4 linked regions of the Homo sapiens genome follow. The protein of the gene in region 4 purifies or fractionates together with the protein of the main gene of each other region. This does not show direct contact. Each region holds a gene or a part of one and is shown on either strand. Other genes may lie near its edges.

Region 1 (7,024 bases), on a different chromosome or scaffold from region 4:
AATTTTGGACTGATAGTGTCTATCTTAAGGCAAGTGTTCACTTATATGTCACTTTTTTTTATTACAGGGTAGGGAAAAGTATAGCACATCTTTATGTGCTTTTGTATTTATAAAAAGATAGTATTTTGAAATAGAAATATTGTGTTACTCCCATAAATTAACGTGCAAACTCTTGGTTTGGCCCAGTGTCTCATGTGAATAACTTTCTCCTTTAATGCTGGGCAGAACTGAAAGCATTAAAAATAAAAAAAAAAAAAAGAAAAAGAATTGAAAGTATTAATTCTGTCTTTCTTTAGATAACACACCATATTTTCTTGTGCTTCTAAATTTTTTTTTTTGCCTGATAATTTAAGATTGTTACTTCTGTTAAATGATTGTATTTCTGCTGATAAGGAATTTTCTAAGAGTTTTATATGTTTTCGTGTTATCTCATGTTTTGTGAGTTTCGCTCACTTTATTCAAAAGGAGATGTTGGCCAGGTAAGGTGGCTCACGCCTGTAATCCCAGCACTTTGGGAGGTCAAGGCGGGAGGATCACTTGAGCCCAAGAGTTCCAGACCACCCTGGGCAACATAGAGAGAACCCATCTCTAAAAAAAAAAAGAAAGAAAAAAAGAAAAGAAAAAAAAATTAGCTGTGCATGATGATACATGTCTTTGGTTTCAGCTACTCAGGAGGTTGAGGTGGGAGGATTGCTTGACTGCACCTGGAGGTGGAGGCTGCAGGGAGCTCTGATCATGCCACTGCACTCCAGCCTGGGTGACACAGTGAGACCCTGTCTCAAAAAGGAAAAAAAAAAGCAGCTGTTACTCTTTCCCCTTCCATCTGCCGCAGATGGAGTTTTGCTTTTGTTGCCCAGGCTGGAATGCAATGGTGTGATCTTGGCTCATGGTAACCTCTGCCTCCCAGGATCAAGTGATTCTCCTGCCTCAGCCTCCCAAGTAGCTGGGATGACAGGCGCCCACCACCACACCTGGCTAATTTTTTATATTTTTAGTAGAGACAGGGTTTCACCATGTTGGTCAGGCTGGTCTTTCCTGACCTCAGGTGATCCACCCACCTCAGCCTCCCAAAGTGCTGGGATTACAGGTGTGAGCCACAGTGCCCAGCCCTGTTACTCTTTTTACCTTATTGTTTTACTCCTTTAAACACTTTGGGCAGTGCTTGATCCTCTGTTTTTTAAATTTTTAAACTTTTATATTTTTAGGAAGTCAGTTAACTGAATTTGATGTTCTCTATCCCTTTGCAAAAATTAAAAAACAAATTAGAGATAGTTTTCCTTGTTAAAAATACCCTTTAACTTTCATACAATAAAAGGCAATTTAAAAACATTAATGGCCGGACGCGGCACCTCATGCCTGTAATCCAAGAAACTTTGGGAGGCTGAGGCGGGCGGATCACTTGAGGTCAGGAGTTCAAGGCCAGTCTGGCCCACATGGTGAAACCCTGTATCTACTAAAAATAAAAAATTAGCCAGGTGTGGTAGTGCACACCTATAATCCCAGCTACTCGAGAAGCTGAGGCAGGAGAATCACCTGAATCTGGGAGGCGGAGGTTGCAGTGAGCCGAGATCCCATCAGTCACTCCAGCCTGTGTGACAAGAGCGAGACTCCGTCTCAAAAAAAAGAAAAAAAAAAGAAAAATTAACATTGAAACTTCCTGAAATCATTAGAGTTTTAGAATTCCTGGTTCAATAGAATTCACAAATTTCAAATAATTGAGCAAATACAAAGTCTCCTCTTTATCCTAGTGGCATTTTTTCCTGGAAACATCAGAAACTATTTTAAAGTTTGTTGCTTTATTTATAGTCTTTGCGGTTATCACCCAGCTTTTAATATGCCTTTCCATTCTTTACAGTCTCTCCAGTTCTTGTTAGATACATGTAAAGTTCTAGTCATTGGAGCTGGCGGCTTAGGATGTGAGCTCCTGAAAAATCTGGTAATATATATACATATATATATAAATATTTTTTTCTTCTTTGTGATAAGTAAACCTTACTTATCTGTCATACTAGGGAATTTCTCGTGATTCTTAACCTTTTCTCTTGAGCCTTTGTTAGATAAGTTTAGCATGCCAAATTCCAAACAGTAATTAAAATGGTAGAACTTTGGAACTTTTTAAATTCTAAAGCTCTCAGCTATAAAGTTATTGATAAAATTTCATACTTCAGTTTTCTTCTCTGATCTTTAACAAACAACTTTTGGTGCTTCCTCTGGCAAAACGCTCCTAACTTCAATGAAGTAAATAACAAAACTGGCAATTCATATTTTAATGTATAGTTTCAAATAATTTATTATTTCTTTTGCTTCCCCAAATAACCCAGCTAGGTGGGTAAGGCATTACCCCATTTTATATAGAGGGAGACATTGAGGTTTAGAGATGTTGACTGAGTTGCTGAAGTTTTTGTGGATTATAGCGATTTGCCTGGAATTGAATCCAGGTCATCAGTTCTTAGTTAAGTGTTCTTTTTCAGTGAACCATTAGGTCATTTTATGACCTAATAAGACGATTGTGGACACCTAAGGTTTGGGAAAGCTAAACCTTTACTGAACTTATTTGCATATATTTAGAAATAAATTAAGTATATAATTTGATTTAATTAATTGGTTTCCTTGACTTTTTCTAATCACAAAGTCGCTTTCTATAAATTTTAATGAGTTTATGTAACAAATGAGTAGAGGCAGAATTGGTTTAGAGTTGTATGCTAGGCTTCTCACTGCTGTGTAGAAAAGTGGAAATGCTGGAATAGACTCTTTAGAAAATAAAGCAGGTCACAGCCAGATGGAGGACCCAAATAATTGGCCAAGGGGGTTAAAGTTTAAATATAAACATAGCCACATTAATTTTGTTAAGAAACACTAATGTCGCTTGAGTGAAGTTGTAAAAACTTAAATATACTTCACTGTATTTAATGTCTTGCTGGGTTCTGTGGGGATTATATGTCATCGTGGTCTCTGTCTTCAATCAATCTGAAGTTTCATTGGGGAGATAAATCTCACATGAAATAAATAGCAGTATGCATGATATACTCTGTGGTGGAATGCCAAAATGACAGTACCGTATCAAACATAAATACTCTAGCAGTGTGAGAACCAAAGACTTAGAGAAGGAAAGGGTTTATGGAGGATGGGCATTGGTTTTTGTTAGGTATTATAAATGTACAAGTTTCCTAAAGCTTATTAAATTTTGAAGCCATTATTTGCAAATGTGACATTTACTAATTTTAAGTGTAAAATAATTGAAGATTAGATCTGAAGATTAGTCACCAAGCAACTTTAAGGAGTGACCTCTTCTTTATTGCATTATAGTAATCTTTTACACAAAAGAAGAAAACTAAGGGTTTTCAATTTTACTCCTTGTTTTGCTTATTTAATTCATTGTAAGCCCCCTAAAGGCTCATTCTAACAAAAAAGAATATGATACTAGACTGGGCATGGTGGCTCACACCTGTAATCCCAGCACTTTGGGAGGCCGAGGCAGGCGGATCACAAGGTCAGGAGATCGAGACTATCCTGACTAACACAGTGAAACCCCGTCTCTACTAAAAAATACAGAAAACAAAAAATTAGCCGGGCGTGGTGGCAGGTGCCTGTAGTCCCAGCTACTCGGGAGGCTGAGGCGAGAGAGTGGCGTGAACCCGGGAGGCAGAGCTTGCAGTGAGCCGAGATCACACCACTGCACTCCAGCCTGGGCAACAGAGCGAGACTCCGTCTCAAAAAAAAAAAAAAAAAGATACTAATATTACTGATTGAGCAAATATTTATTGAGCCTCCATCCCATATGCCAAGCACCATTTTAGATGCTGAAGATACAGCATTGAACAAATACAGAAAGGTGTTTGCATTGGTGGGACTCACATTTTAGTTGAATGAAAAAGTAAGTATATAGTATGTCAAATGGTGTGAAGGGAAAAGGTTTACAAAAAGGTGCTATTGAGTACAAAGGTGAGCAAATGAGCCATACAGTTATCTGTAGGAAGAATATTCTAGTTAGAGAGAATAACAGGTACAAAGCTGTGAAGTGGAGCACTCCTGTTTGTTCAAGGACTGCAAGGAGGCTATCATCGCTAGAGCAGAAGTGGGTTGGGGGAGCATTTTTGGAGACCATATCAGACAGATAATGGGAGATGGAGGGGCTTGGAGTGGATATCACAAAAGACTTTGGAGGTTACTGTAAGTGCTGTCGCTTTTACTCTGAGTCATGAAGTCATTGGAGAGATTTATGCAATGAGAGACTTGATTGGCTTTTCACCTAGGTTACTGAGGCTGATGCATTGAGAATAGACTAAGGGAAGAGCAGAGAGGGGGAAGAAACAGAGAGACTAATTAGATTATTATAGTCCTCTAGACAAGAGACAACGTGACTTGAAACAGGATGGTAGCATTGGATGTGGTGACAGGTGGTCAGATTATGGATATATTTTGAAGATGGAATCAACAGGATTAGCTGATGGATTGGTGGTGTGCTGTGAGAGAAAGGAATCGAGGATGATACAACAAGGTTTTTGCTCTAGGGGCGGGCACCTGGAAAGATGGAGTTACTGCAATGAGGAAGTTACTGCAATGAGGAAGATCTGGAAAAGAACAGATTTGGTTGTTGTGAGCAAGGGTGATCAAGTTTGGTTTTGGAAACTGTTAAGTCTGAGATGTCTGCTAGATGGTCTATATCTTACAAGATGGTCTGAGATCACCAGAACAAAGCACAAGGCTACTCCGAATTCTGGCCAGTAAAGTAGGAAGAAAACTGAATGAACTGGAAACCAATTTTTAAAAAGTGTTTAAATTCTCATGAGTGTGGTGACCAACTGAAGAACATGTTTTAGGGTGGAGGAAGTGACCCACCCAGCCTAATACCTCAGAAAGGTAAGGTCAGATAGATTGAGAATTGGTCATTGGAGTTAGCAACACGGAGGTTATTGGTGAACTTGACAAGTACAGTTTCTGTGGAGTTTGAGAACAGTCAGGACTTTGAAAGCACAAATATGGATAAGTCTTGAAGATCTCTTGGTATATAGGGGGACAGAAAAATGAGGAAATTATTGTCAAGTTATTTGATCATCGAAGTAAACTGACCAAGACCAGAAAAGTTAGTTATTGAGACTTATTTTTTTCAGTTTTTTGCATCTGCTGCTAAATTTGAATGTGGTTGTACTGTTCAGAATGCATGGCATTATTATGGAAACCTAACAGGTTTTTTGTTTTTTGCCTTTCCCTGCTTTTTAAATTGCATGCTCTTGATTCAATATCTTTTAAGATACTCCTTTTACAAATACAGCCTACCCATGTGTGTGTTTTTATAATATATGTCTTATAATAGTTACCATTTCTGAATTGTGGCATGCTTAATATTAAGTAAACTAAAATAAAGCTTGTAGAATTGCTTTTAACAATATTTTGAAAAAATAATAGCAAGCATAGTAAAATTAAAGTATCCATCAATAGCAGCAAAGCAACAAATTTTACAAATGTGTTTATGGAATTATATATATATGTAAAATAGTTTCAATCCGTAGAAATTTTGAGTTGTTCTCTTTTGGTTATAGATTATTTGAAACTGAGTGATTGTACACTTTTGACCTGTTCAAGAACTCTGAATTTTATATACCTTGCAAGAGTCTTTCAGCCATTGAATACAAATTACACAGAATTTATTACTGAGAATTTGTAGACTTAAGACTACATTGAAAACAAATGTTACGTTTTTAAATGTGAGGAAACTTCTGCTTAATTGGATTGTTTTTATTCCCACAGGCCTTGTCTGGTTTTAGACAGATTCATGTTATAGATATGGACACTATAGATGTTTCCAATCTAAATAGGCAGTTTTTATTTAGGTAAGTTTTAATATCTTAGCGGTTTTCTTTTTTTAAGCTCTGATAATCATTTGAACTTGTACATTGCAGTTTAATAATTTTTAAAAATGACTTGAGAGGATAATACTAATTTTATTTTAAAAAACAAAAACTACCATTCCCATTGTAGGTAAAGTTTTGTAAGAAAATTTTGGGCATCTTGGTGATAGTAGTTATGTAAACAAATACATGTTTTTGTTTTTTCGAAGAAGTCTCCTTCCAAAGGTTTATGTGATTTTTGGGAATATCCTCAGGTTAACTGTGCTCTGAAGAAAGGAAAGAACGGTAGCTCTTCCTCCAGTTGATGTCAGAAGAGAATACTCGCTGGAGTATTAGGCCCTAGTGAGAGATTGGCAGGGATTTGTGAGCCAAGGTTTGAATGGTGACTGGAGCAATAAAGTTGGGAAAGAGTTTGAGCTTTTCCTACAAGGGGAAAGAAAATGGAAAGTCGAGGAGAGAAAAACCAGAACCAATTGGAATGGAACAAAGAGGGATGGTTACCTTAGGCATATATGGAATATAGAGAACATCAAGGAGTGATTTGTTAAAGATGAGTTTAAGAAGAGAAGTAGAGGCCAGGCATGGTGGCTTACACCTGTAATCCCAACACTGGGAGGCTGAGGTGAGAAGATTGCTTGAGCCCAGGAGATCCAGACCAGCCTGGGCAACAAAGGGAGATTTCGTCTCTACAAAAAAATTAAAAAATTAGCCGGGTGTGCACCTGTGGTCCCTGCTGCATGGGAAGCTGAGGTAGGAGGATCGTTTGAGCTCAGGATCTGGAGGCTGCAGTGAACTGTGTTCATGCCACTGTACTCCAGCCTGGGCAACAGAGCGAGACCCTGTCTCAAAAACAAAAACAAAACAACCCAAAAAACAAAAACTGAAGTAGACCATGTATCCAGACATGAAGAAATGTTCATTCATGAATTTAGTATGTAATATTGAGGGGTTTGAGTAGTTTAGGTAAAAGTGTATATTTGTTAGTCAAAGATACACAGAGATAAGGACTTTTTTTTTCTCTCTCTATTTAGGAAGTTTGCATCTGTTACTGACAGTGCTCAAATTGTTCTGGGTATATAGGATAAAGTTGAGCTAGCAAAAAAGGTAACATTAAGTTTTTGGATAGGCATAAAACCTCTACATTATCTTTGTGGAAGATCTTAATGGGACTGAAG
Region 2 (7,286 bases), on a different chromosome or scaffold from region 4:
TACAAAAGTACATGAAAGAACCAGTATTAAAGACATCAGCAGCCCAGTGGAAAACCAGGAAAAAGGAAATAAATATTTCAAATAAAAAGAAATATAAATGGCCAGTATCTCTCCCCGGCCCCTGGCCCACCCCATGAAGAGATGCTAATCTTATTCACACTAGAAAAATGTTTTTGACTGGGTGCCATGGCTCACGCCTGTAATCCCAGCACTTTGGGAGGCAGAGGCAGGCAGATCACTTGAAGTCAGGAGTTCAAGACCAGCCTGACCAACATGGTGAAACCACGTCTTTACTAAAAATACAAAAAATTAGCCAGATGTGGTGGCGGGCACCTGTAATCCCAGCTACTCAAGAGGCTGAGGCAGAATCGCTTGAACCCAGGAGGTGGAGGTTGCAGTGAGCTGAGATTGTGCCACTGCACTCTAGCCTGAGTGACAGAGGGAGACTCTGTCTCAAAAAAAGAAAAAAGAAAAATGTTCTTTTTTACCTGGTGCCATTTCTCCCTGGGCCACCCATAGGGCCACGTGATTACCCTGATTCAATAATTCTTCAACTTCAGCCTGCCTCCCGAGAATTACCTAAAGAGTATGTTAAGAATGAATAATTCTAGATCTCATCCCCAAAGCTTCTGATTCACTAAATTTGGGGCCAGGGAACCTGCATTTTCTACATAATGGCCTAAGAAATATATTTCAAAAAACACTGCCTACCTTTTGACCTTCCTATTGCTGGATTTCTTCCTCAGACATCCTGAGCTGACCAGATTCCATAGTCGAGGTTGCCAGATATATAACTAACAGCATCAAAGGTTAACCATGTACATGATACAACTTTGTCATAAGAGGGACACTGCCAGTGTCACTGAAGAAACCAGAGTGACATCTAAATAATTATCACACTGTAGAATGGTTGCCACTGTAGTCATCGGGAGGCAGGAGGCAAACTAAGATGATATTTCCTAGATAAGTATGTAGCAAGTATGCAATAAGTATGTAAGTAATACGCTTTATTTAACATACAGCTAGAAGCCACGCTCTTCTGTCTCCACTTATTTGGAATACATCCTATACCTGTGAATTCACAGAGATAATCAACAAGGCATCTCTGTCAGGATGTAAGCATGATTTTAGGGTGTAAACTAACATCATCTTTATGGAAATAACATAACTCTTTACGAAACTGATGTTTAATCTCTATGATTTCTAACACCCACTAAATAACCTGGTTGGCCGGCCCCTTGTTGCCATACATAAGTTGCCTTTAATGAGGGGACAGGATGTTTATCTTCAGTGTGGTAGGTGAACAGACATGTGTTCACAGCAATGACTCTAGGTCAAAACCCTGACAAGCCTTGTTTACCTTTTGTCCCCGCCTCCCCAGGCCCAGGCAGATGAAAACCTTTTGCTTGCGTCAGCTCTGGAAACAACTTGTGCTGCATTTGACCACCATACTTTAGGACCATAATTATTTTTTAAATTTCCTTCCCCCTAACTCTTGCTTTCAAGAAATAGAATTGTCCTTGGATATTTGAATAATATCCAGTAGTAACCCTAGACTAGAATAATTTGATGGAAAAGTTTGCCCTAATGTCATTTCCACAATATCTTTGTCTGTATAAATTACATTTCTGTTTTTCAAAGAGGACTTGTATTGGCATGTATTGAATTCCTTGCCTTTTGTGGCATTGATTTGAAAAGTACAGGTGTTAAAGCTCTCACTGTGTTCTACACAGATGTGATGTGGAGAATAAAGGTGTCTTGCTACTTTATACAATATTATAGAAGCATAAGTACAATAATTAAATATCAGTAGCATCCCTAAAAGCCAATGTATGGTTTCATCTGAGCAAATGAAATGTCACTGGTTTGACATCAAAAATAAATACTATAAAAAACTTGCTAAAAATTCTGCTCATAGAACCAACAGTTCAGTAAACTCTAAAGTATGGGAAAGTCTTTTAAAGCTAATAGTGTTTAACCATCCACTATTTTGCCTTCACATACGTAGCTAATAATGAAAAGTGGCTTGGTATTTATATAAACTGACTATGAATGAGGAGATGGAACTCTTGCCTATCTTTGACCCTAATAAACCATACAGCCTCCCTAGACTATCACTATCACATGGGTAGGAGAGAGGCAAGATAGGAGAGATTGGATTATATGATCTCTGTGGTATCTTTAAGCATTAATGTTTTATGCTCTGTTTCTACAATGACTGATACTCTTCAAGAGAAACGGAAGTAGCTACTCTTTATCTACACAAGCTCAGAACCATAACCAAGTTTTGTCTTTGGGAATTCCACTGTAAAATCATCCATCCCCTGTGGGAAACAGTAGCTCACACCTGTAATCTCAGTACTTTAGGAGACCAAGGCAGGAGGATCACTTAAGCCCACGAGTTTGAGACCAGCCTGGACAATATAGCAGGACCTTGTCTCTACAAAATATTTTTAAAATTAACCAAGTGTGGTGACATGCACCTGTAAACCCAAGTACTTGAGAGGCTGAGGTGGGAGGATCACTTGAACTCAGGAGGCAGAGGTTGCCGTGAGCTGCACTCAGACCACTACTGCACTCCAGCCTGAGAAGCAGAGCAAGACTCTGTCTCCAAAAAAAACTTTAAAGCAAAAGATCATTCCCACAAATCTCCAAGGAGTAAACAGAAATGAAATGATGGGGCTTCAGGTAGTTCCTCCTTAGTTACTGAAGAATCTTTTAAATATGTTCATAATTATAATCTGGATTCAAATTCTGGATACCATTGAAATCAGGAGTTTCAAATGGAGAAAGCTAGAGGTACCCACATAAATGATCTAGTACCTATTTCTATTGCTTCCTGTTTCTTTTCTTTAAAACTCATCCTATAAATAGCATTCAAGTAGATAGAAAATCTTATATTTAGAAGAAAATATAAGAAAAATCTTATATGTAGAAGAAATCATCTATAGTGTAAACAAAAGATAGAGACCTTTGTGAAATATCTCCTTCAAACACAACAATAGAGAAGAATGTTGTTTTTCCCTTGTAAAAAGCAATGTCACTTAAAGACCTGGAGTTGTTTCATTAATTCTCTTAGGCAAATTAAATTATCTAATTCAACATGACATGAAATAATGCAAAAGTAAATTACTTTATCTGGCTTCCAAAAATACTAAAACTACTTTTCTCAAGAAACTAAGCAATACTTAGAATACATTCTATTACCAGGGTCAACCTTGTTTCTGAATTACAGTGATGGGATAGTGAAGACAGGAGGCAGTCTCCCTTTGAAATTCTCCAACCAACATGTATTATCTATCAATCAGAGAACAGTTAACTGCATTTTCTTTTAAGTTTATTGATGTTGCTGCCAGCCTGCAATGTTTGCATCAGGACACTCTATACCCTGTTTCAAACCCATACTAACAAAGGAAAAGGGAGACACGAAAAAGGGAAATAATATTCAAAAATATCCAGATCCCACTCTGGGCTTTTTTTCATTAAATTCTCACGTTTCCAACTTCAGTTTCTCCTTAATAAATATTTGTGGTGGTGTAAAATGTGTTCCTCACCCACATTATGTACTTTTTATCAGTGGTAATACTATGAGAAGTGAGAATGTTGTATTGTAGTTACTTTAAAATGATTTTGTAAATATCATATTGTAGAGGTTTGACTGAATAATCAAGAAAGAAAATGCCAAAGTATGGAAACAAACATACTGGTACTAGTTAAATCAGAGTTCCTTCATCTTAACTTTGTTATTTCAGAAAATCTTTAAAATTGAGAGTGCGGTTCAACCACAAGACATTTTAAAGAGAGAAGCAGGACTCAACTGAATTGAAATGAGCGTCATTATTCTATCTTTCTTCCTATACCATACTTGAGTCCTGATGACTTTCAACAATGGCCTCTGCTAAAAGTATCATTCCTTGAAGTGGGTTCTGCAGTGGACATGTGTGTGTATGTGTTGTCAGTATATGTAATTTTGCTTTTACAATGTTGGCAGTAAGAAGAAGCCTTCTAATTTTATTCAGCATGATGATAGGCCCTAGCATTTTAATTATTTTTTATGTTGTGAGTAATTTATTATTCACTGGCTATCTTCCCTGTAAATCTTGTCCTCGCTCTGTAAGGTTTTTCTTTGGTGTCCAACAAAGGGTTTCATTGCAATAAGAATCAAGGTGTGTCTAAATTCTTACCCAGAGCCCAAACAATGCCAGTCTTCCAGACCAGCCTGGGAGTTTGGGGTGGGGAAACAGTCATTATAGAATATCTTCATCTCTCTGCCCAGAGATCACCACAGTTATCACCCATGCCCTCCTAAAAGGGTGTCTCAAAGCATATCTTTCTGTAGAGCAGAATTCGGAACTGAGAAGACGAGGGCTCAAATTGAATCTCACAGGATTTGCGTGCAAGAGAAACCCAAAGGAATGGATTGGCTCTTCTTCAGAAACATTTGCCTTTTGATCATTCTAATGGTAAGTAGAATTTAAAGAGGTGGGAAGGAAATGCAGCCTCAAGGTCTTGTCTCTGTCAACTGTCGGGCTTTCTACATGGGATTTATTCCATTTTTAATCTCCTTCCTGCAAAGAGAGTTCTAGAAGTCCAGCCTCTGTTAATTTCAAACAACTCTCTCCGCCTTGAGGAACAAAATGCCATAGAGAAGCGGGGTGAGAATCTGGCTGAATTAAATTTATATGCCCTCAGAGACATAATCTACTTCACTTTGAGTGTTAGGACTATTCTAAAATTTTAAATTGGAAATAAAATTCATATTCTATGATCATATAAATAAATCAGATAGATTGCTGTGAAAACTGCCAGTGCAAATGGGTTCTAAATTTGAAGGGAAGTTAATCAAACCCATTTCTTTTCAATAGTTATTTCCCTATGAGTTTCTTTCAAAGTGGAGGAATGATAGCCATGTTGAAATTACATTGCAACTAATGATGACATACTAAAGTCATGAGAACTTTTTCCAGTCAGATATTGCTAAAGAAAAATGAAGCCCAGCCATCAAGACAAAACTTTTCTGGAATTATGAATGCATTCCTACAGACCAGCAAAGAAATATTTAAATGACTTATTTCTTTACAGTAAACATGGCATCTTGGATATTATATTTCTTTCCTCTAACCTTTGGGTGCCCAAGGTGTGACATGATTTCCAGACAGGCAGCATGCATAGCAAATATCCTACCCTAGAAAGAGATAATTCCAACTCCAAAGAAGAACAAAGTTCCAGTTGGCCAATCAACAAACTATTGCCAATTCTGGGAGGGTAAGAGGACAGGATTATTAGGAACTGTACAAATTTTTCAAAGTAAATTAAGACAAATGCATTATAGTTGGCCACACTTCAATCTCCCAGGAGTATCCAGGTTAGCGCTACAACCTAAGCTTAGAAAGTGATTCCCATCCTATTCTTAGGCAAGTGGCAATTATACCAGACTCCTCTGAACATCAGTTGTAAGAGACAGAGAGTAGCTAGGGCTGGGAGAGATGGGAGCACGTCATTGTCCAAGAGGCACAGTGAGAGCTACTCTTCTGGAATTCACATTTCTAAACTTCAAGAGCAGTGCGGGAGCCGAACACTGCCAAAGGGCACACAACCCCAAGCTCAAAAGGGAACGTGACAACAGTGGTAGAATATTGCATCCTCTGAGTTTAGGAGACAGATTATTAAACAATACCATTTTTGAAAAATATTTTTAAACTTAAAAACATAAGACGAAGGGCAATATTCTGTTACAATGATCATTATTTATTTACTAAATAAAATAAATGTTACTAAAAGAAGAGGCAAGAATCGGACTTGGTCTTCAATTGAAATAGTAAGTTATGAGGATATACCTCTTGTTACTCTTCTACCGAGTATATTCATGCTTTGACTCAGATAAACTTTTGGTTTTCTGTAAGGAAAATTGTATGTGTCAAGATTTTAGAGGCCACTTCTGAGCACTAAATCTTGCCTCCCATTGCCTTCTGCACAGGCATGATTTATGATAATATTATTTAATTGAAGAGTTGATTCTTCTCCTTGATCTTGAAAGAGTATTATACTTCAGACTCTCAGGATCTTTTTTTGGTAGTATTTATTTATTTTCCTTGGTAATACTAGCGTTTTTAATACTTAATTCCTCCTACTCCTCATTGATATTGAAGTCTTTGTGTTTGACATTTCACGGTAATTGTGAAAAAGTTCTTTAAGTATTTTTTTTCTTTATGCTTGTCTAAAAGATCCCTTACCATATCAATTAATAGTGTCTGGAATTGGGAGGTAGAGACTTCTGGCATATTTCAAAATTGAAACAAATACAAGAATTGTTTAAGGAGAATCAATGAGATGTTATAGATATTATAGGAAAGTAGACATGCCTACTTCTCTTTAATTTCCTGAACTTGAACTCTGCCCCTTCTTCATTAACTAAATCAAAGACTCTCTGGGGCATCATTGCAGCTTACACTAATGAGGGTGTGGCAGCCTCTCAGAGACTCACAGGTACTTTGTGTCAGCTACATCTCAACCGCAAAGAGCACTGTAAACAAAGTTCTGACTGGCTAACCAGCAAAAGGTACTCAAAACTCTAGATTACAATAGGGCACTGATTTTATCACGAGTCATTTGGCATTTTCTTCCTAAGGATGCTTATCATGTTCTTCTATAAAACAGACAGGGGTGGTGAGGGACATTCAACAGTGAATCGAGATTCAGAAGTCCCGGGTTTGAATTACAGCTCCTCTTCAAAGTGGCTGTGTAACTTTGGCAAAAGCACCCAACTTCTCAGGGCTTCCTTTGACCTCATGTGAGAATGTATGGTTAGACATGATGTTATTAAGTTGCTTCCACTGTAGAAACTGCAATTCTAAAATTATCTCCACTGAATACTTACATAGTAGAAGTTCATTTCTGGCTCATAAATAGTTTTCATAAATTTGGCTGGAGAATCTGAGGATTTAGGCAATTCTATGGATTGTATAAATTTTATAAGGAAGGAATCACTTACGGCAGGACAGTTATTAGCTGGAAGAGGCCTATATTATATCAAGTGGATAAGGTCATAAAAGACAACCATTTATCAGATAAGAATTTTTCTCTATGTGTGATGACCATTCATGCTACATATAAGATGTAAGCACTTCCATTAAATAGTCTAATTCTTGGAAGTTAAAAAGGTAGGTGGCTAAATATAGCTGTTATCTCATTGCAAGTTGAGAGCAGGCATCAAAATTTGAAAACATATTTAAAATTAACTTAGCCACTTATCAATTTAGTTCTCACATGCACTCAAATATGTTATT
Region 3 (8,024 bases), on a different chromosome or scaffold from region 4:
TCAAAGGCAAGTTTTATTTCTACAAATTAAAATGTCAAAGTCCCATTGGACCTGTGGATTAATTCATCTCAAAGTTTCTCTCCCCATAAACAGACAGACTCATGGTTCAGGACAATCAATTTTAGTTGCTTAATCCACCCGATGGCCTGGCTCTGATCCCAGTGAGGTGCTCTGGTGTTCTGGGTAGAAGGTCCCAAGAGGTTCCGTTCTCAAGGATCTTCCTTCCTCAGTTAAAAAATAATCGTCAGCTGTCACTCCTGGCTTTGCTCTTCTCAGTCCATGTCTGGCAGGGACCTGGCTTACTTACCAAGCCCAGAAATATTCCCCTGGCCTCCTCTCTCCACCCGCTACTCTTTTCTCTGGCACGCCGTTGTTAGTTATCCTTCAGATCTCGGCTTAAACATCATTGCCACTAAGTCAGGGGCCTTGCACGTATTACTGCATCTTACCACATTGCGGGCCAGGAGCTATTTCCGTGTCAGATGGGGTGTTCTGTGAGGATAGGGACTGAGTCTCCTTAATTGCCATTTCCCCAGGGCCTAGCACAAAGCCTGGCTGTTTGCTGAATGAATGAAGGTTCTGCAGGATGTGGTTGATCTTGGCGAGGTGAAGATACCTTTATCTTCAAAGCCTCTTCATTCTTCCTCAGATCTGTCATCAGGGAATCACATAGCCTTTACAAGCGATTTCTTCTCGCCTCCACTCATTCTCTTGCTAACAATTCAGTTGGTGGCATTCAATCGCCTCCCTTTGCTCTTGTGCTTTGTTGATGTAGTGACAACTCCAGCCACTCCTTTAATTGATGGGGACTATGTGTGTGCTGCTTGCTCTTCTGAGTCTGTCAGCTTCAGGACATTGCTTGATGGGAGAGATGTGGGCATATCCAGGCTCCTCCTAGAATCCCACTTCTTCTGAAGTGTACCAGTCAGAACCACTGAGGTTTGGGAAACCTAAGCAGGAGCTTGGGGAGTCCCTGTGTCACCTGTGTTCACGGCTCTTCCCTGCCAGCTTTGATTTGAGCCTTAGTTTCGAACCCAACCCACACCCTCAAACTTAGCCCCACATGTCGATCTCATCCCTCTCTGTAACCAGAATCCGACGTTGTCCCATCACCACCCATGCAACCTCTGAGCCCCCTGCCCTTCTCATGCAACCATGGCCTCACCTGGCAGACCTCCACCTCCAAATCATCACTGAAAGCTGGGTGGACAGACAGCAGCTGCAAGGCTCCTTGGCTTCTCTGTGACTCTTTGCCTATCCATTGTCACTCACAGCTTCTGCTCCCAGAGTCTTACCTCAGAGGTTTCCTCTGCAGGACAGCTCCTCCCTGGGTGCTGCAGGGTGAGCCCTGGGCTACATGGGGACTTGGGAGAGGGGGCTGAGGAGCTTGCTGACTGTGTGGGGAGGAGTTTAGAATGAGTCAAATTGCAGTGCCAGCCAAGGCAGGGGTTGTGGGGAGCTTGATTGAGCCTGAGCCCAGGGAGTCTGGCGGCCACTGAGAGGGGTTGGGGTGGGCAAGTACAGGCAGGGGAGGGCAGGGCTTAGAGGAGTGGGGTGGAGTTGCCATGAAAGGGACTTTGGAGGAAGAATAGGCTTTGGAGGAAGAGTAGGCAGCCCAAGCCCTCTGTCCGTCCTTCCCAGAAAGGTTCTGGGGCTGGGCTGCACTTCATCTGGTAAGCAATCTGTGGCCTTCTCTGAGTTTTTGTCCAGCCTCTTCCTACCTCCTGTATCTCCCTGTTTACTCCTTTCTAAGCCAGTCTTTGATTTTCTGTTACTGTCTTAGAATAGAAGCAAATACCAGTCAAAGCAGGGCCATTCTTCCCTGGAGAGTCATGGATTTCTTAGGAAAAAGCAAGGGGCCCTTTTGGAAATTTGTATTGGTTCCCAGCTCGTGGCCTGGGCCCTCTGCCTCCTCTGTATCCCTCTGAGTCTCTGGAGGGGCCATTTAGACCATGTGTCTTTCTGTCTGCCTCTGTCCCTGTCTCTGTCTTTGCCCCTTAACTCATCACTATCTCTCCCAATCTCTTTCTTCTCTCTCTCTGGGGTCACAGGGGGAACCCCAGTAGTCTCCTGGACCAGACCTTTATAAAACCTGAAAAGGAAGTGGGTGGGGAAATGAGATGTTTGGGCTGGAGACTGGTTGGGGAAAAATGAGAGGGAGGAATTGGGACGGGGTCTTCCTAGGAGTGGGGCCCTCTTCCACTGCTGAGGATAAGGCCCAGAGACTTACACGGACTGTGAGCTGGGCCCAGAGGGAGGGGACTGTAGGACTGTGACATATGCTTTGGAAACTATGCTGACACCCCAGTGCCTTCACCCCATCCACAGCCTCCCCACTGCTGCCCTCCCTGAAAACCCTGCAGGGCTCAGGGTTTAGGGCTGGAAGGCTGACAGCTTCTTTTATAGGACTCAAATTGCAAGAAGGTAGCAATTAAGCCTCAGAGGGTCAAGGGGAAACAACAATGGCACTCTGCCCTTTCAGGCTTTGAAAGACCCCCATGTGGTGCCCCATAAAGTGGCTGTTCTAGGAGCATGTAGGCCCTCAGTTTCTCCCAACTCCCATCTCCTAAGGACTCCAAATCCAGACCACCCCTCCTCCCCACTCAGTAAGACTCCCTCTGATGGACCCCATCTTCTAGTTCGGTTTGGTGTCAGAGCCCAACTCATTGTCAGTAGCTTCCTGCGTCTCCTCCCCAGATGTTTTTCTGGAGCTTGGCCAGGTGGTGAGCTTTAGTAGTGGAGCAGGACTTCAGAGGGTCCATTCTCTATGGGATTTAGTTGCCTCATACCCCTTAGATGGGCTCGTGTACATTTGGCTTCCTCCTCCAAGTCTTGGGACCCCAATCAACATGTGCCATTAGTAGTCTCCCCGCACTAAGGATTGAAAATTCTAGCCAAACCTGGATTTAGCAGATGGAGGCTGAAGTCTTTCTATATTAGAAATAAAACCTCATCTTTGATCCCCATCAACTCCCGCTGCTTACGTGTCTTTAAACCATGTTCCAACCCTAACCACAGCCTATTTCAATGTGAATCTCAAACTTAGTTCTAACCCAATGCTAAATCAATCTAAACCCAGCCTTTGATTTAGCCCTAACTGTATTCCCAGGCAGAGCTGTAAATGAAACTAAAACTCTATTCCTTATCGTAACACAAATCCCAGCCATAAACCTGAGCCTCAATTCTAGCTGTATTTCTAACCCTAATCCCAACCTTAACTCTAATCCCAACCTCAAATCTGACCTCAACCTCATTCATAATTCAACTAACCCCAAACTTAACCCCAGCTCTAACATTAGCCCACATCCAGAACCCAATTAAATCTGAAGCCTGCACTGTAGTTTAGTGGAACCACAATGTTACTGCTTTCTCCTCAATCTCTCTGTTCGTGGTCTGACCTGTTTTCCCTCCCACTCACCCTGACCTTCCATGGTTCTTGTTCGTGAGTGGGTCTAGTAATCCACAGGATCACCAAGACCATTTTTTGGACCTCTCTGGACTGACACCCTGGGTACCTGGGTATCCCAGCTTAGGCACCAGCCGCATTGGCTGAATCCCCATGTTTCTCCAGGTCTCTGTTTCCCCATCTGTAAAATGGGGATAATGATCCCTGCTCTTCAAAGGGAGCAGGACAATCCCATAAACCTAAAAATAAATAAGGAAATAAAGATATTCATTGTGTACATCTGGTAGGTCTCAGAGCGCCCTGTTATTGTTGGGAGTTCAGGTGCAACGGCTTGGAATGCAGAGACGCGTGGACTCCTTGTGTTTCCTTAATGTTCTGACTTATTTTTCCCCAGAGGGGTGGGCCCTGGCAGCATCCCTGAGCCCCATAACTCTCCCTAACACTCTTCCTCCTCTGCCCTTTCTGTGCCCCATGGTAGGGATGGGGGCAGTCCCTGACTCCTTTGAGGGAGTTGAGCTATTGAATGGGGTCACTCATGTCCTGACTCCCACCATGGAGTCCAACAAGGCACATGCCCATTCTGTCCCCCTTAGACAAGCCAACAAGGGGTGGCCCTTCACTTGCTCCCCATGCCTACCAGGACCCTCCCCACCCCAGCACGAACTTACCCAGAACTGTGCTGGTTTAGTCAGCCCGATGACCAGTCCAGGTTATGAGGGTCCTTGGTCTCAAGGACCCAGTTAATACTGGGACTGCATTAACCCTCAAGACCTGGCTACTCTTTCTGGGCAGAGAAGCCAGGACACCAAGCGATCCCTCAAGAAGTTCACTCAGAGGGGCTTAGCCATCCTCACAGAGACACCCTGACACAGACATCCTGCCTCCCTCCCACAGACATTGCTGAGGGGTGCACACGCTTACACAGGCACCCCCTTCCCTGGTCCTCTTGGCGCTGTTCTCTCCAACACTCCCTCACTAGCCCATCAGTCACCTTACTCCTAGCACACACCCTGGACCCCCCATAGCACCCCTGCTCCCAGGGGTCCCCTACACTTGGGGATGGCCTTGAGTCGAGTATGGGTGTGGAGGACAGTTCCAGAGGGGACAGCCAGGAGGAGACTCTGTTCCTGCACACACCCCTTCTCTCCTCTTTCAGCTCAGGAGGCCTGAGTCCCTTTGAAAGGCCTGAAGCCTGGGGGAAGGTGGGCTGGACACTCCTGGGGAACCCTATGCCCTGGGATCAGGATTAACTCTTCAGGTCCTGGCCACTCTTTCTCCCAAGCCTGGCTTCTCCTTCCTCTTCCCCACTTCCCCCAGGGAAGGAGGCAGCAAATGAGTGGTGAGGGGAGCCCTTGGAAGCTGTAAATGAGGTGACTGTTGTCACCCTGAGGATGTGGCCAGGAGGAAGTGAAGTTTAACAGGTGCCTAATTACAAGTCCCGCTGGCTGTCCTGTGCCACTCTTAGGACAGGGAAGAGCTTGGGTGAGGGCTGGGTAATGCCCAGGTAGGCCACCCTGTCACCCTGCTAATTAGGGTTCCTGGGACTCCTCCCCAAGGCGGGGACCAGGCCCCCTCCCTCCCATAGAAATAACTCCAGCTGCTCCCCAGCTGGGCACTCATTGCACCTTCCTGCCACCCCAGGCAGTGTCTGGGCCCTCAGCTCCCCCTCCCTCCACCTACCCCCTCACACCCACCACTACGACCCCACGGGATACCCAGCCCAGACGGAGGAAACACCGAGCCTAGAGACATGAGAGTTGGAGGAGCATTCCACCTTCTACTCGTGTGCCTGAGCCCAGGTACGGGGCTGGGCAGGGGGCAGGGTAGCCAGCATGAGGCTAGGTGGGAAGGAAAGGGGCAGCAAGGGCTCACAGTGGAGCCTGGGGCTGCCTGAGTTGCCTGGCAGGGTGCTGCCCACCCTTGCCCTGCTGCAGCCGGGTGTGGGTATTACCAGGGGACCTTTCCCCAGGAGACCCTGTGCCTGATGTTCAGGGTGTGTGTCTGTAGTGCAGAGGTCTTTGAGTGGATCTTTATATGTCCCCTGTCGGGCTCACACATGTGTGCAGGTGCCCTGCAAGCTCATGCCGTGACTAGGAGGAGAGGGATTGATTGCTCTGCAGGAGCTGGAGGTGGGGTAGGAGAGGGGTAAGCACGGGCATTGGGTGAGGGCTCAGGAGGAGCTTGGGAAGGATCAATTTTCATCAGACTGTGTGCTATTCCCAACGCTACTCCTTCTCTCCCAAGGCCAGGGCCAAGGGGCAGGGAAGTCACTTGCCTTGAAAGGGCAAGAGACTAAGTCTGGTGTAAGTCTGAGTGGTTTCTTCCATCATGGCCAGTGACAGCTCAGGCCTGAGACCTCAGCCTTGGGCCCCCTGTGCTATGACAGGGCAGTGCCCCACTCTAGGATGAGGCCTGAGGGTGGTGGGGATGGCAACTCCAGAGACTTCTCACCCCACCAGGACAGGTCCACAGGGCAGGGCTCAAGTTTGGACATTGTGGCTTCCTGCCCAGGTTGGGGCAAGTTCCACCAAGGGGCATTCTATGCCAACATCACTGGAAAGGGCTCCGAGTCCCTCTTGCAGTCTGGATTTGGGATGAAGGGGCATGAAGGAGGAATTTGGGAAGGCGGGGTGACATTTTCAGCCTTTGTGTGAGCGTGAATGTGTATGTGAGTGTGTGGGTGCGTGCACCTGCATGGGAATGATGACATTTCCGGCAGGATAGCTGCAGCCCTTCTCTGTCTGATGAGAGCAGGGCTGGCAGAGTCCACTCGGGAGGCTCCAGCTGTGCTGTGGGGACCCGGACTTCCCCCTGTGTGGTGTGTCAATGGGTGTGTGAGGACAACTCAGCACTGGCTGCATTAACGCATCAATACCCTCAGCTGGAGCCGCCTTTTCTCCCCTCCCTTACCTCCAGAGGGAAGATCAGGAGTTCTGGAAGCACCTTGAAGATTCAGAAAGAATTTGCAAGCAGAGAGTAGGCACCACTATTGAGATGACACCCCGTAAAGCATGGCCAGTTTCTGGTGCTTTTGGGGGGCAAAGAATCACCACTGTCCTCTTCCTTGGAGAGCCCATGTGATTCCTCCATTCCTGTCTCTCCTCAAGTCTCCCATCCAGCTCTCTCTTCCACTTTGCCTTTCTTCCCTCTCTCCAGCCTCTCCTCTCACATTCCCTGTAGTACTTCCTTAGTGCTACAGCAAGAGGAATCAAGGTGAGACATTAGGAGCAACTTCCCAAGGAGAGGGAGGGGTGCGGAAAGGCTGGAACCCTTGGGAGGAGGTTGAGAAGACTTCTAAGGAGATAGAAAAGCTGGGTGAGGCTCCCTGGTCTGGGACAATTGAAGAATCTCTCAGCCTGGTGCAGGGTGGAGGTGCTTTTCTTGCAGCCTGTCGCTCCTTCCCAAGCCCCTCTCCCTGAATGCTTACCATCCTGCCTGGCAGGCTCCTATGGCATGGAGAGAGTCCTTCCTGTGTGGGTGCTTCCAGCGGTGCTTCTCCAGGGTGGAGCCTCTGCTCTCAGCCGAGTTCTGGCTCATCCCTGGCTTGCCTTGAGCAGCCTCAGGATCTGGCAGATGGCAGCAGGATCCTTATCTCAGGAATGAGCTGTTGTTCTCTTGGCCTGGAGCTGGAAGAGGCATCACTAGGTCCCGTTAGAGCCCCAGCAGTCAGCCTGCCTGCTCTGGGTCACCTTGGAGTCTAGCTGGGTTATGACAGAGCTGATGGCCCAGCCAGTGTTCCTAGGGGGGATGTTCAGGGATCCCTGAGCTGTTGAGGGTGTTGAAAGGGCCCTTGCTGGCCTCTCTGGAGCCAGGCTAAGCCTTCCTGGCAGGGCTTCCATAGATATGTCTGGTCTTGAATGAACACATACAGGGACTATATGAACACACGGTGGGTGTGTCTTTTGAATTAATATGTTCTGTGTTTGTGTGCAGATTGTGTCTGTGTCTGAATGAATCTATATAGTGTCTGTGTTTGTAGGAAGGTGGGGCCATATAGGTATGTATCTGCATTTTGAAGCCTTGTAAGAGTGGGCCACGTGCCGATTTGTTTGCCTGTGATGGTGTAATTGTGTGTGTGCATGTGTGAGATCTCTATGTGTAAACATGGTCCTGAGCCACATGATAGAACAGAATGATTGCTGAGACCTGGGGCTGTGACTCCAGAAGACATGTTGACTCAAAAAAGAACGCAGACGGAGAGTGTGTGAGGCCTGGTGAGGGGCCTGCAGAGGCAGGGTTGCTGGAGACTGGGAGGTGGAGGGCAGAGTGTCCAGGGTGGGGCCCTGGCTACACCCCCCGGTCTTATCCCTCTCTAGGTCCAACCGGTTGGGGATAGGCCTGCCTGGGGCTTCAGGGTAGGGAGGGACAAGAGCTCAGTCCTGAGCTCCTGGGTCCTGGGATCCTGGCTCCTCACCCAGGATTGCCTGCCACTGACTCAGTGGCAGGAGGGGCCTCACTGGAAGCCAGCTTGTGGGGGCAGCTGCATGCGAGCCACACAATCACATAAGAGGAAGCACACACAGTACGCAATGCTGTGTAGTCAAGAAAGACTCACAATGTCCTACAGATACCTGTGGCCATAGTCCCAGGCACACACCATCACTCACTATCACACACG
Region 4 (7,024 bases):
TGTATTTTGACCTCTTGGGGTTTGGCCCTTGCTTACCACAGTGAAAATGCAGGAGTACAGAGAAGTATATTCCAAAATTTAGTAACTTGAAATTCAAAATGCTTTCTGTTTGTGGCTTAAAGCACCAAGTAGATATTTCACTTTAATATTTGGCATGTTTCTATTCTAAAAAGCTCTGTCATTTTTATATTTTTATCCAGATATCTCTTTCTTTGTAGGTGTAAATATATTTTTCTAAAACATTTGGCTAATCTTTTAATTACCCAAAGTTCATCAAAGTCTAAATTAATTTCCATTTTACAAAGACATTTACAACATACCAAGTCACTTGAATAAACAGAGTACCCTTGGTTTTCCTACTTTATAGATGGGTTTTACTTACCAGCAGACCATTTTGTACTTTATTTGAGTCTATTCCCAGGACTGCATAAATTTCTCCCCACATAAGAAGACCCACAAGTCCACTTATCTGTGGAGGTGAGTGGACCATGTACCATCCTAGAGCTTCTTCCATGTTACACAAGGACACAAGATTTGGATCACTGGTATTCACAAAGAGCCCTTGTTAATAGTATGATCCCAACCCATTCTCACTGGTTGCAGAGGAATGTCCCTTTATGTTATCCTTATGTTGCAGAACTCGGAAACAATAGCCACTTCATGAAAGCAAATGCTCGCGTGCAGCTAACAGTGCATTGGATTTCCACTCACATTATCAGACATTTGTTTTCTAGACTTTATCAGTGGAACCTTAAAGAAACTTTGATTTCACCTTAGATTTTTATCGGTTCCAAGCCTACAGGTTTATTAGCAACCTGAACTTCAGCAGCTTGGTATATAGGCCATCATCCTCATTTACACTATGAAATGTTTGATATTTGTTCAATATCCCTGTGTCTGTGCCTTACTAGCAGAAACTAGAGCATGCAGGTACTGGCATTTTCTTGGTTTGCATATATGCAGTAGCTCATTAATACTCTCTGGCAGCAACTGAAACTGGTAAGTTATCAAAGATATCCAGCGAGAAGAGAAAAAACCTGATATGTGAGCCAAGGGACGTTTGTTTAGTTGTTGTTGAGGGTGGAGGGAATTTAGAGAAGATTTGAAATTAATTTCCAAATCAAATTTGAGAGCACCTTGTGGTAAATGGTAGTCTATAGCATCTCCCTTAGTCCAACATCCTGTAACAAAGAGATCTTCACATGTAGCCATTCTGATATTTTGAACTCTTTGTAGTTGTTTTAGCTTTATTACTAAATTTTTTTCCAAGATATGTATGCTTTTCAAATGGGAAGCATGTGATTCTATCCAAAAAGTAGCCCAGTGTTAATACAGTAATTTAAGAAACTGTCCAGCAGAGGTCTCTGAACTTCATGGTTTAAGAAGAGCATTTCAAACAATAAATCAAACCTGATTCTTTGCATGACAGAAATATACTTCTATTGAGCATATTTTCCAGATTGGATTTTAGAATAACTGTATTTCACATAGGTTAAACTCTGCTTATTCATGTTTAAAGACGCTGAAAACTTATGTTTTCAGATTTTTATTCCCCTAACAGGATAAAAGCCTGGTTACCACCAACTTTGCACTATAAAAAGAATAAATATATATGAAACGTAGAAGACAAAAGCAACAACTAATATTCTACAATGCCACCAGCACTACAAAGGCATTGATGTAGTTTGGCTTTCTTTCTATGCAGCCAAAATCCATAATTAAATCAAGCAACTGGCTGTATTGCTTGATTTATAAAGAACATGCATGATTGGACTGCAAACTTTTCTTTGTGCAAAAGCAGGAAATAAATAAATACCAATTTGTATGTTTTGTGTTGCCAGCGATGAAATCTACATTGCTCCTTCAGGAGTGCAAAAGGAACGAATTCAGGTATGGTAATGGGATTCTTTAACCTCAGTGTCTTTTCTTCTTAATTACTGTTTTATGAAATGGAATTAATTTTAAGAGAAAACATTCATTTTATCATAGCAATTTGAATAACTAATCAGCAAACATTTATTGAGTAATTATTAAATGTTTTGTAAGGTGGTAGATATCTTCCATACAACCGGTGTATGTTTTGAAATCTCATTCAACCTATAGGGGGCAAAAGTGAATAGTGCAATCTTAAATCACAGTAAAGAGCAATTATAACTTTGCAGCTTTATAACACTACGATCTTTATCAGGCTGGTGGAATAATCAGATTGATGGTCTCAGATGAACCAAATTAATTCATATTTCCTAATAGCAAAGTTATTCTAATTTCAGGATTTCAAGTTATGAAACTTTGTTTCAAATTTTGAGAAGTCTTATTCTGTGTTAATGCCAGAATAATACCCCAAATCTAGTTAAAGCAAACACATAATTATTTAACTTCTAATGCAAGAAAAAAAAGAAAAGCTGCTTTGTTAATAAAACATTTGTATTGTAGTTTTTTAATAAATCCTGGCAGATAAAAGCTACAGAAATACGCATGCTTTACTGTATGTGGATCAGATACCCATCAACAGTAGACTGGCGAAAGAAAATGTGGTACATATATACCATGGATTAGTATGCAGCCATAATAAAGAACAAGATCATGTCCTTTGCAGCAACATGAGTGGAGCTGGAAACCATTATCCTAAGTGAATTAATGCAGGAACAGAAAAATCAAATACCGCATGTTCTCACTTACAGTGGGAGCTAAACATTGAGTACATACAGTCACAAAGAAGGGAGCAATACACACTGGGACCTACTGGAGGGTGGAGGGTGGGAGGAAAGTGAGGATGGAAAAACTGCTGTCAGTTACTATGCTTATTACATGGGTGACAAAATAATCTGTACACCAGACTCTTGTAACATGCAATTTACCTATGTAACAAACCTCCACATGTACCCCTGGACCTAAAATAAAAGTTAAAAAAAAAAAGAAAAACCTGTAGATCTACATAATTTCTTAAGCTTTAAGAAGAATATACCTTATTGAGATTAACCTTTCTGAGTACCATCTAAATTTCTCAAGGGTTAGAAAAATTACTCAAAATTTTGCTTTTATCTAACAAAATGTGGGGAAAAAAATTTTAACACCCATCTTTGGAATGTCGATTTCTTTATATAGACTTTCTGAAATACAGTTGTGAAATTATAGGGCAAAGTTGAGAAGCTAAATTGTTGAAATGACAGCAGTAACATCATTACATAAATAGTAATTTTCCATATCATTTTTTGTCTTCAAATTTTTTTTAATTTTTGGGATTTGTATTAAACTTCTGAGAATATTTTTACTAGTAGAAATCACTGTTTTATTTCTCAAAATTGCTAAATTATTTTGAGAAACTATAATTATATATTTAAAATGTAAGTTAAATATATGCATATATTAGCACTCTATGTATATGTATACTAAATATACACACAAGTATGTATACTATAGATAAACTTTCTTGTATTCTTATGTATATGTACACAAGAAAAGGAACATTTCTAATTGATATTTTACAAGCCTTCTTTTTTTCTTTTTTTCCCCTCTATAAATAGCCTGAAGACATGTTTGTTTGTGATATAAATGAAAAGGACATAAGTGGACCTTCGCCATCGAAGAAGCTAAAAAAAAGCCAGTGTACTCCTCTTTTCATGAATGCTTACACAATGAGAGGTATGCAGAAAATATATTCAACATAAAGAATATTTGCAGAGTAGGCTCCTCTAAATAATGGTAATTATTATTTCAGTTAACATTTCTTGGATACCCACCATGTGCAAGAACTTGAAGTGCATGAACTTACTCAGTTCTCACATCAACCTATGAGGAAGGTCCATTATTCCACTTACCCTCCTGCCTACTACCAACTTATTCCATGCCAGGAAAAATAAGCCCATAACCATATGTAAATATAAGTATAACTATATGGACTTTTTTTCTTTAAAAGCTATAATTCAGTCTTCATTGAGCATGCGGCTTTCTTCTTCCTCCTTCAGGAGCAGGTGCAGTGATTCATACCCACTCTAAAGCTGCTGTGATGGCCACACTTCTCTTTCCAGGACGGGAGTTTAAAATTACACATCAAGAGATGATAAAAGGAATAAAGAAATGTACTTCCGGAGGGTATTATAGGTATTTTTTTTTCCTTTTTCTTAAATAATTTGAAAAGAATTCTTCCTTCTCTTTGATAAATAGAATACTGATCATTTTATGCATATAATGAGATGTCGTGGGATCTGTGTTAAATAATACTCCATTTAATATTACACTTCTAGACCTATTCTCATGACACGAATGGGATGTCTTCCCTCCTCTCCCGCCCCTACCCCAGCCATGGTAAATTATTAGTAATATGAATAATGAAATGTTTGTTTAAACTGAAAAAAATCTTGACTGAGATCTCTATCATGATGGAAAGATTATGTTCCTGTATTGAGGCAGCCAAAGATATCTTCAACTTCACTTTGTCTTCAGAAATTTGACCAGTGACTACAGTTTATACTTCATGGTGATTTAATTTAGTATTTCTGGAATATTTTCATATTTATGTAAGTTTTTTTAATAAAGTAGATCTCTATATTTTTAGAATTTTTCAGTGTTTAAGGTGAAATGGATAGTAAGTATAGATTACCATTCTAGATCAGTTTAAATAAATTCATCAGTCCACAAAAGTGTAGTAATTCTTCATAATTCTAGAATATAACGGCAGGAAGAAACATGTTCTCAGTGTTCAGGGACAAGCTAAGCATTTCATTTGAGTTTATTAGCATTCTCATTCCTGAACCTTCACTCTTAATTTCCTAAAGGGCTTGATTCTACCTTGCCTTGTTTAGAGGAAAACGGTGCCAGTTTTACTAAAGTGTTATTACCACAATATCATATTCTTACTGCATGTAATGGAATGTGCATGTTTAAACTAGTGCACTGAGAAATTGATTTGATTTCAGTTAATATTTATTGTGTGCTTAAAGCATTCCTCAGGACTGTGAAACACCTGTTTACAAAAGTTAAATATTTAAATTAAGAGAAGTGTACATACTGAGGAAAGTAGAGCCCCAGATTGCCTCTTCCATATCTGGGGCTGAAGGAGAGGCCTTATGGGTACTATCAGTTTCATATGAATGTTATTGTTTTGGTGAGGAAATAAAAATAGGTCAGAAGAATCAGTTTTTCTGAAAAGAGTTTGGAAAAAGTAAGGTAGAGGAACAGGGCATAAGAGAGAGTCTTTGCAATTTTGTGGAGAGGCCAAGCATGGTGGCCCTTTGCAATTCTGTTGGAGTCTAGCTGGGAAATGAGTAATAGAGTCATTAACACAGCTCAGGAGGCAGTGTTATTTTATCTGAATTTGAAGAGAATCCTGAGTCTAATCAAAAGAAAGGCAATGAAAGCTGGATGAGGTAAGAAAGGATGGAGTTTAAAATTCTCTACTGTATTTTTTTAAGTTTATCTTTTATATAAAGAACAGCTTTAAAATACAGTCACTTGTCACTGTGGATGGGGATATGTTCTGCGAAATGTGTCACTAGGTGATTTCATCATTGTGTGAACAGCAGAGTGCATACACAAACCTAAATGGTATAGCCTACTGCACACCCAGGGTATATGGTATAGCCTAATGCTCCTAGGCTACAAGCCTGCATAGCAGGTTACTGTACAAAGTACTGTAGGCAATTGCAACACAATGGTAGGTATTTGTGTATCTAAACATAGAAAAGGTTTGGTAAAAAAAAAATATGATGTAAAAGGTAAAAAGTGGCACACCTGTCTAAGGCCCTGACCATGAACGGAGCTTGCAGAACTGGAAGTTGTTCTGGGTGAATAAGTGAGTGAGTGGTGAGTAAATGTGAAGGCCTAGGACATTACACTACTATAGACTTTATAAGCATTGTATGTTTAGGCTACACGAAATTTATTGAAAACATTTCTTAATAATAACCTCAGCTTACTGTAACTTTTTTAGTTTATCAAGCTTTTACTTTTTTTTTTTAACTTTTGGACTCTTGTAATAGTACCTTAAAACACACATTGTACAGCTATACAAAAATATTTTCTTTATATCTTTATTCTATAAGCTTTTTTCTATTTTAATTTTTTTTAACTTTTTAAATTTTTTTTGTTAAAATCTGAGACACAAACACATATATTAGCCTAGGAGTACACAGGGTCAGGGTCATCAATATCACTGCCTTCCACCTCCACACCTTGTCTCAGTGGAAGGTCTTCAGGGGCAAGTAACATGCATGGAGCTGTCATCTCCTGTGATAACTAACAGTGCCTTCTTCCGGAATACCTCCTGAAGGACCTGCCCGAGGCTGCTTTACAGTTAACTTTTTAAAAACCATATAAGTAGAAGGAGTACACCCTAAAATAGTGTTTTAAAATTATAGAGTAATAAATACATAAACTACTAACATAGTCATTATCATCACGTATTACATACTGTAATAATTGTATGTGCTGTACTTTTATACAGCTAGCAGCACAGTAGGTTTGTTTACACCAGCATCACCACAGACATTTGCATAATATGTTGTGCTGTGACCCTATGACAGCTATGCGGTCATTAGGCGATAGGAGTTGTTGAGAGCCAAAAAGGCCAAAGGGATCGTGATCAACTCAGCATTCCACTGGAGGCTATATGATCAAACAGCAAACTGTTTATCATGAATGCAGGATGTGAGCAAACTCACACTGCGCCTGCCACCAAAAGGTTTGCTGAGGGACATCACTCCCTGGCACCGGGCTCCTTGAAGTTATCCATTGAGAAATCTAGAGCCTATTGTTCAAAGGATGCAGTCTTGCAAGCCTGCTGTGAACCAAAGTGGCCGACTGACAATTGCCCGACAATTGCCCCCCATTTCTCGTTATCTCTTTTACCAATAAATACGGAGGGCTGTGTACAGCTCGGGGCCCTTGTCCACTAGAGGCAAGGTGCCCCCGACCTCTTCTTCCAAACGTACTCTCTTGTTTTTATCTTTTATTCCCACGTTCGCCCCCTTTGTTCAGTCCACCAGGTCTGTGCAGGTATAATGGAGTTTTTCAGCTCCATTATAAT

The links.
Region 1: the proteins of APIP (region 4) and UBA3 purify together in Homo sapiens (affinity purification with mass spectrometry; 3 studies listed by BioGRID and IntAct, with this or other methods). This does not show direct contact.
Region 2: the proteins of APIP (region 4) and DSG4 purify together in Homo sapiens (affinity purification with mass spectrometry; 3 studies listed by BioGRID and IntAct, with this or other methods). This does not show direct contact.
Region 3: the proteins of APIP (region 4) and VSIG8 purify together in Homo sapiens (affinity purification with mass spectrometry; 3 studies listed by BioGRID and IntAct, with this or other methods). This does not show direct contact.

Annotation. Positions count from the first base shown.
Region 1 is NC_000003.12:69,070,342-69,077,365, reverse strand, and holds part of UBA3 (NEDD8-activating enzyme E1 catalytic subunit), read left to right. Parts: intron 1-1,855; coding exon 1,856-1,936; intron 1,937-5,748; coding exon 5,749-5,831; intron 5,832-7,024. UniProt on the Homo sapiens protein: Catalytic subunit of the dimeric UBA3-NAE1 E1 enzyme. E1 activates NEDD8 by first adenylating its C-terminal glycine residue with ATP, thereafter linking this residue to the side chain of the catalytic cysteine, yielding a NEDD8-UBA3 thioester and free AMP.
Region 2 is NC_000018.10:31,372,497-31,379,782, forward strand, and holds the start of DSG4 (desmoglein-4 isoform 2 preproprotein), read left to right. Parts: upstream 1-4,280; 5' UTR 4,281-4,415; coding exon 4,416-4,463; intron 4,464-7,286.
Region 3 is NC_000001.11:159,859,654-159,867,677, reverse strand, and holds the start of VSIG8 (V-set and immunoglobulin domain-containing protein 8 precursor), read left to right. Parts: upstream 1-5,020; 5' UTR 5,021-5,156; coding exon 5,157-5,205; exon of another isoform or gene 5,206-7,032; intron 7,033-8,024.
Region 4 is NC_000011.10:34,885,370-34,892,393, reverse strand, and holds part of APIP (methylthioribulose-1-phosphate dehydratase), read left to right. Parts: intron 1-1,841; coding exon 1,842-1,890; intron 1,891-3,524; coding exon 3,525-3,642; intron 3,643-3,965; coding exon 3,966-4,101; intron 4,102-7,024. UniProt on the Homo sapiens protein: Catalyzes the dehydration of methylthioribulose-1-phosphate (MTRu-1-P) into 2,3-diketo-5-methylthiopentyl-1-phosphate (DK-MTP-1-P).